2 linked regions of the Homo sapiens genome follow. The protein of the gene in region 1 purifies or fractionates together with the protein of each later gene. This does not show direct contact. Each region holds a gene or a part of one and is shown on either strand. Other genes may lie near its edges.

The links.
Region 2: the proteins of SMAD5 (region 1) and TAF12 purify together in Homo sapiens (affinity purification with mass spectrometry, with the first as the bait; one large-scale study listed by BioGRID). This does not show direct contact.

The regions. Positions count from the first base shown.
Region 1 is NC_000005.10:136,139,059-136,142,880, forward strand, and holds part of SMAD5 (mothers against decapentaplegic homolog 5), read left to right. Parts: intron 1-3,822. UniProt on the Homo sapiens protein: Transcriptional regulator that plays a role in various cellular processes including embryonic development, cell differentiation, angiogenesis and tissue homeostasis.
Region 2 is NC_000001.11:28,636,246-28,640,067, reverse strand, and holds part of TAF12 (transcription initiation factor TFIID subunit 12), read left to right. Parts: intron 1-3,822. UniProt on the Homo sapiens protein: The TFIID basal transcription factor complex plays a major role in the initiation of RNA polymerase II (Pol II)-dependent transcription.

The sequences.
Region 1 (3,822 bases):
TAGAGATGTTGGAGCACAAAGTGAAAGAGTTGTTTCTGTGAATTCACTTTAGAAATCTAGCTGTGAGCTCTGTGTGTGTGTGTGTGTGTGTGTGTGTGTGTCTTTCTGTATGTTTTTCTGTATGTATGTGTGTCTCGGGGTGGGTATTGAAGTCAGTTTGTGTGTGTGTTTATTATGAAAGTTGGTCAGGATGTAGTACTTCCATAACCTTAGGTAAGAACAGGACCTTTGGGTTATTGATTCAACATGAATTCATTTGAAATAGAAGCTTTGTGAAGCTTAGCAACATTTTATTCATATGGTTAATGTGTATAAAACTTAACCCTGAATCTTCCTTTAGCTTTCTTATCTGCATTTGCCAAATCAGTTGATGTCAAACCCCATTCTTCCAGTTGTCCAGGCTGATACCTTGGAATCATTGTTAACTCCTTTGTTCTCATACACCCCATGATCTCCTTCATCAGGAAGCTTACTGTCTTTCATATGTCTGCTGCTCACCACCCCACTGCTATCACCCTGGTTGTAAGCCATCGTCATCTTCTCCCCTCCCTTAGATTACTGCATCTCTGAACTGGTCTCGCTGCTTTTATCATTGCTGTCCACCCCTCCTCCTGCTTATTCTCAACATACCAGCCAGGATTTATTTATTTATTTTGAGACGGAGTCTTGTGCTGTCACCCAGGCTGGAGTGCAGTGGCATGATCTTGGCTCACTGCTACCTTGACCTCTTGGGCTCAAGTGATCCTCCCACCTCAGCCTCCTAAGTAGATGGGATCACAGGCATGTGCCACTGCACCTGGCTAATTTTTTAATTAAAAACAATTTTTTTTTGTAGAGATGGAGTTTTAAAAACTATGTTGCCCAGGCTAGGCTTGAACCGCTGAGCTCAAGTGATTCTCCTGCCTTGGCCTTCCAAAGTACTGGGATTACAGGCATGAGCCACCACGCCTGGCCCAGGATAACTCTTTTTTTTTTTTTTTTTGAGATGAAGTCTAGCTTTGTTGGCCAGGCTAGAGTGCAGTGGTATGATCTTGGCTCACTGCAACCTCTGCCTCCCGGGCTCAAGCAATTCTCCTTCCTCAGCCTCCCAAGTAGCTGGAATTACAGGCACATGCCACCACACCCAGCTAATTTTTGTATTTTTCGTAGAGACGGGGTTTCACCATGTTCGCCAGGCTGGTCTTGAACTCCTGACCTCAGGTAATTTGCCCACCTCGGCCCAGGATAATTCTTTAATAGTGTAAGTCGAGAACTATCATGTCTGTGCTCAGAGCTCTCCACTGAGTTCACAGTTTCCTTAGAGTACTGTAAAAGCTAAAGCCTTTATATCCAGCATGGCCATTCTGGCTCTCTGGTATCTCTTTGACCCCACTCCTTACCTTTTCCCCCTCGTACACTGTGTTCTCAGGCTATACTGGTCTTCTAGCCAGTATATGCTCTTCATGCCAGAAGCATGCCAGACATGCTCCTACCTTAGGATCTTTGCATTGCCTGTTGCCTTTACCTGTAATGGTTTTCCCCTAGATATATGCCTGTTGGCTCACTCTTTTATTTCCTTAACATTTTAACTCAGTTGGCACCTTCTTGGTGAGACCCAGCCCAGCCACCCTGTTTAAAATTACACCTCTCTTCCAGGACTTCTTGTCCACCTTCCCCTGTTTTAATTTTTCTCTATAGCACTTTTCACCTAACAAACATATCATTTACTATATCTCGTTGGCCTCCTTCTGCTGGAATATAAGCTAAATGAAGACAAGTGTTTTGGTTCCTTTTATTCACTTCTATATTCCCAGCTCCTAAAATGCTATCTTAATAAATATTCTTTTGGATGAATGACTTGAATGAATTTGACAAGTTATTGTAATGTATGTGGTACTGTTTTTTAAAGATTATATTCTAGTGCGAGAGACAGAAATAAAGTAAATGAACAAATTATTATGAATCAGTTAATACAGTGAAGAAAATGAACATAGTATTGGATTAGAGATTAGGGAAACTCTATATAGGATTATGGGGTGATCAGGGAAGGTATCTGGGATGAGAGCTAAAGCTGAGACTTAAATAACGATAGAGCTAAAAATTAGTGGCCAGGGATTAAGAAAAGTGGTATAAGCAGAAAATGGCATTTGTAATATCTGAGGTTCAAAAGACATTCCAGTATAGGAAGATAAATGCTTTTGAAGAATGAGTTCTTACTAATATTTATTGGGAGCAGGAATAATGCTTCTGGAGTTTGATTTCATTGTTTTGAGGAGCAACAGCTCATTTGTAGTAACAGGACACACTGTGAAAAGTGCTAGATACCTGGATTACATGCCCTTTCTCTGTCTCTCTGTGTTCCTCTAGTAACTTGAGTTTATCTCATTGTACTTACATATAGGGGTATAGTTTGGTGTCTGTCGTGCTACGTTATTCTGTGAAGGGAGATTCTGTCCCGTTTGCATTTTTGCTATTCCCACTCTTCACTCATATAGTACCTTTGTATGGGACTTAGAAAAAGGCCTTCTCATTTATTCCTTCACCCTTGGCTAGTGCTGATAAACCCCTGCATGTCCTACAATGTCTGCTAGTTAGTAGGTGCTCAATAAGTGTTTAATGATTCATGGCTGTTATAGCTGCTGAGTCAGTTAATGCACATATACTTAAAGAAGTAGGTGTACCTTATGATAATCATTTCTGTATTTCTGTTGATTAACCTAGAGTACTATAGTTATGGAAGTATTTGTACCTAGTTTCTGATTTGATTTTTCTTAGTTTCAACCTCCAAATTTGTATAACCCCAAGTATATTAGAGAGAATTGTTTTGAAGCAGGAATGACTCATGATAATGTAAATCCTCTCTTTAGTAAGGGTTCATAATATGGCTGAGGTATAGCTGCACTTTAATTTTGAAACCTGTTTTTCCTCTGACTCTTCAAGAAATATGTTTATTTTAAAAAATATAGAATTAGATGAAGCAGAAAGTGAAAAGTACACCTAACCCCACCACCAGAGCTAATATCACAAACCCTTTCTTTCATTAAACAAATATTTATTGAGCATATGTATCACTAGGCTTACAGTGATGAGTGAAAACAGATACAGCTCTTCTCGTGGAATTTACATTCTTGTGGGGACAGATTTGAAAGGTAAATGTAAAAACATAGGTGTGGTAAGTGCTACAAAGTAGGAGTATGTGATGCGGTAAGCATATAAGAGGGGGACTTCTAGCCAGGACGGTTTGGGAAGACTTCCCCGAAGAAGGGATGCTTGAGCTGAAAGAGAGGTGAGGTGTGTGTGTGTTTTGTAATGTGATAGATTCATTTGTAATTCATGATATACCGTAATTTTATAAGGTTTTCATTTATGGCTGAGGTACCACTGCATCTCTTTTGGTACACTAATGACGTTCTGTGTTCAGTCAGTGGTTGCAGTTTTTCAGAAGAATCAGGGAACCTCACGTACACAGGAATTTCTAAATATTATGATTACCTTGGTTTTCTTTCTAGCTTTGAGGTCATTTCTCTAAGAAATGACAAAATACATCAATAAAAGGGTATTATCAAGTCAAGTCTTCATAAACCAAAGGTATACTATGAAAGGCCAAGATAATAGCAGATAATGGGTTCATAGCTGTTAAGTCCCTCCAGTTTCTAGTGTAAGAAGGAGCATACCTTCCTGTCTGTTCAATTATTGGCTCTCTGTGCTTGGTGTACATTTTTTTAAACTCAATTTTAATGCCCTATTTCTGTTGGCTATCATATGGAAATAAATATAGGATAAAACTAAGTGATAGGCTAAATGGCATATGAAACTCTTTATAGCCCCTGTTCTTTTTTCCAT
Region 2 (3,822 bases), on another chromosome or scaffold:
AGTTCGAGACCCGCCTGGCCAACATGGCAAAACCCCGTCTCTACTAAACATACAAAAATTAGCTGGGCATGGTGGCACATGCCTGTAGTCCCAGCTACTCTGGAGGCTGAGGTGGGAGAGAATCACTTGAATCCTGGAGGTGGAGGTTCAATGAGCCGAGATTGTGTCACTGTACTCCAGCCTGGACAACAGAATGAGACTCTGTCTGAAAAAAAAAAAAAGTAATTTGAAAAACAAGGGCTTAAATTTGATTGATTTTCCAGTTAATTATATCATGAACTAGATGTTTGGGGGAATTGGGCTTAGTTAAAACTACTATTTTTTCCCCAGGGTTAGCCTGTACTATTTGCAAGCGCCTATTATATATAAATGATCAAAACTAACTTATACCAACTTATAAGGGAAAGCATACCGATGCCCATGTCACCACTTCAAAGTACTTGATGGTTTAATTAATGATAATTTATTCCTGAGTTAACATCCTTACCTATACTTGCAAAATGTACTTCATTTCATTTGTGGCTCTAGCGTTGACTTATTATAATAGGACTTCAAAATACCCGATCAGAAAATCATTGCATTATAATTAGAGCCGATAGGAACAAAGGACAAAAGGACATATTACCTTTTTTTTTTTTTTTGTGAGACGGAGTTTCGCTCTTTCACTCTTGTTACCCAGGCTGGAGAGCAGTGGTGCAATCTTGGCTCACTCCAACTTTCACCTCCCGGGTTCAAGCGATTCTCCTGCCTCAGCCTCCCATGTAGCTGGGATTACAGGCATGCGCCACCATGCCTGGCTAATTTTTGTATTTTTAGTAGAGACGGGTTTCACCATGTTGGCCAGGCTTGTCTCGAACTCCTGACCTCAGATGATCTGCCTGCCTCGGCCTCCCAGAAGGTGGGAGGTGGAAGTTGCAGTGAGCCGAGATCACACCACTGCACTCCAGCCTGGGCAATAGAGCAAGATTCTGTCTTAAAAAATTAAAATAGGCCAGCCGGGCGTGGTGGCTCACGCCGGTAATCCCAGCACTTTGGGAGGCCGAGGTGGGCGGATCACGAGGTCAGGAGATCGAGACCACGGTGAAACCCCGTCTCTACTAACAATACAAAAAAAATTAGCTGGGCACGGGCGCCTATAGTCGCAGCTACTTGGGAGGCTGAGGCAGGAGAATGGCGTGAACCCGGGAGGTGGAGCTTGCAGTGAGCAGAGATTGTGCCACTGCACTGCAGCCCGGGTGACAGAGCAAGGCTCTGTCTCAAAAAAAAAAAAAAAAAAAAAATAGGCCAGGTGAGGTGGCTCATGCCTGTAATCCTAGCACTTTGGGAGGCTGATGTGGGCAGATCACCTGAGGTCAGGAGTTCGAGACCAGCCTGGCCAACATGGTAAAACCCCGTCTCTACTAAAAATATAAAAATCAGCTGGACATAGTGGCGTGTGCTTATAATCCCGGCTACCTGGGAGGCTAAGGCAGGACAATCGCTGGAACCCGGGAGGCAGAGGCTGCAGTGAGCCGATATTGCGCCACTCCAGCCTGGGTGACAGAGTGAGACTCTGTCTCAAAAAAAAAAAAAAAAATTAGGCCGGGCGCGGTGGCTTATGCCTGTAATCCCAGCACTTTGGGAGGCCGAGGTGGGCGGATCACCTGAGGTTGGGAGTTCGAGACCAGCCTGACCAACATGGAGAAACCCCATCTCTACTAAAAATACAAAATTAGCTGGGCGTGGTGATGCATGCCTGTAATCACAGCTACTCGGGAGGCTGAGGCAGGAGAATCCTTTGAACCTGAGAGGCGGAGGTTGTGGTGAACTGAGATTGCCCCTTTGCACTCCAGCCTGGGTGACAAGAGTGAGACTCTGTCTCAAAAAATAAAATAAAATAAAATAAAATAAAATACAAAAATTAGCTGGATGTGGTGGCAGACGCCTGTAATCCCAGCTACTCAGGAGGCTGAGGCAGGAGAATCACTTGAACCCAGGAGGCAGAGGTTGCAGTGAGCCGAGATTGTGCCACTGCACTCCAGCCTGAGCGACAGAGCGAGACTCCATCTCCAAAAAAATAATAATAATAATTAAACAAAAAATAGGAATGGGGTCTCACTGCATTACCCAGGCTGGTCTTAAACTCCTATCAGCAAGTGATCCTCCTACATCTGCCTCCCGAAGTGCTGGGATTGTAGGCATGAACCATGACACCTGGCGAAGACATACTACTTTTGGTTGGGATTCTTTATGGAAAGCCCTAAAATATTTTGTAGGCACTATATCAGCAATGTTTACAGGCTGCACTGTGAAACAGGTGTGTTGGAGGCAGACAGACTTTGAAATTTCTGTGTATGGACTTAATTTAAGTCAGACAGGGAGGGTAAAGAGAGCAAAAATAAAAAAAAGAAAATCTTTTTTCTGGAGACGGAGTCTTGCTCTGTCGCCCAGGCTGGAGTGCAGTGGTGTGATCTCGGCTCACTGCAACCTCCGCCTCACGGGTTCAAGCACTTCTCCTACCTCAGCCTCCCGAGTAGCTGGGACTATAAGCGCGCGCCACAATGCCCGGCTATTTTTTGTATTTTTAGTAGAGACAGGGTTTCACCATATTGGTCAGGCTGGTCTTGAACTCCTGACCTCGTGATCCGCCTGCCTCGGCCTCCCAAAGTTCTAGGATTACAGGCGTGAGCCACTGTACCTGGCCTTTACACTGATTTTTAATGCTGAAAGGGACTTTAGAATTTGCCTGGTCTGGCCAGAGGCGGAGGTTGCAGTGAACCAAGATCGTGCCACTGCGCTCGAGCCTGGGTGACAGAGCAAAACTCTGTCTCAAAAAAGAGAAAAAGAAAAAAAGAATTTGCCTGGGCCAACTCCTAATTACAGATGTGGAAACTGACCAAAGATGGCATCCAGCCCTCTTGATTTGGGTTTTCCACAGTAACTCTCATCAGCCTCCTGCTGACCACTTGTTACCATTTTTTTCCAATCCACCATTCTTCTGTTAATCTCTGAAGTCATACAGAACACTTATATGGTGCCAGCACACATGGATATGTGTGTTGGGTTAGCAGCAGGATGAGTGAAATGAAACACTGGTATTTTTTGAGAGATGGGGTCTTGCTTTATTTTCCAGGCTGGAGCATGGTGGCTAGCCACAGGCCTATCACAATGTACTACAGCCTCGCACTCCTAGGCTCAAGCCATTCCGTCACCTCAGACCCCATAGTAGCTGGGATTATACATGTGCTCCACTGCATTGAGCAGTATGTTGATTTTTTTTTTTTCCCTGAGACAGGGTCTTGCTTTGTCACCCACGTTGGAGTGCAGTGGTGCCATCACATCTCACTACTGTATCAACCTCCTGGGCTCAAGTGATCCTCCCGCCTTAACCTCCCAAGTAGCTGGGACCACAGCTGCATGCCACCACGCCTGGCAAATTTTTTGATTTTTTTTTTTTTATTTGTAGTGACCAGATCTCACTATGTTGCCCAGGCTGGTCTCAAACTCCTAGGTTCAAGTGATCCTCCCGCTCAGCCTGCCAAACTGCTAGAATTATAGGTGTGAGCCACCAAGCCCACCCTGTACTTCATTATTAACTTAATTTTTTCAGATGAGAAAATTGAGGCATAAAGAGATTATGTAGCTTGCTCAATACAGCTGAAAAGTGGCACAGTTGGTACTTAAACCCAGATACTGCTACCATGGTTCATATCCTTGACCACTGTACTATACACTATACTACCTTTTGTTGTTGTTAGAGACAGGATCTTTTTGTGTTGCCCAGGCTGGTCTCCAACTCCTAACCTCAAACAGTCCTCCCATGTTGTCCTCCCAAAGTTCTGG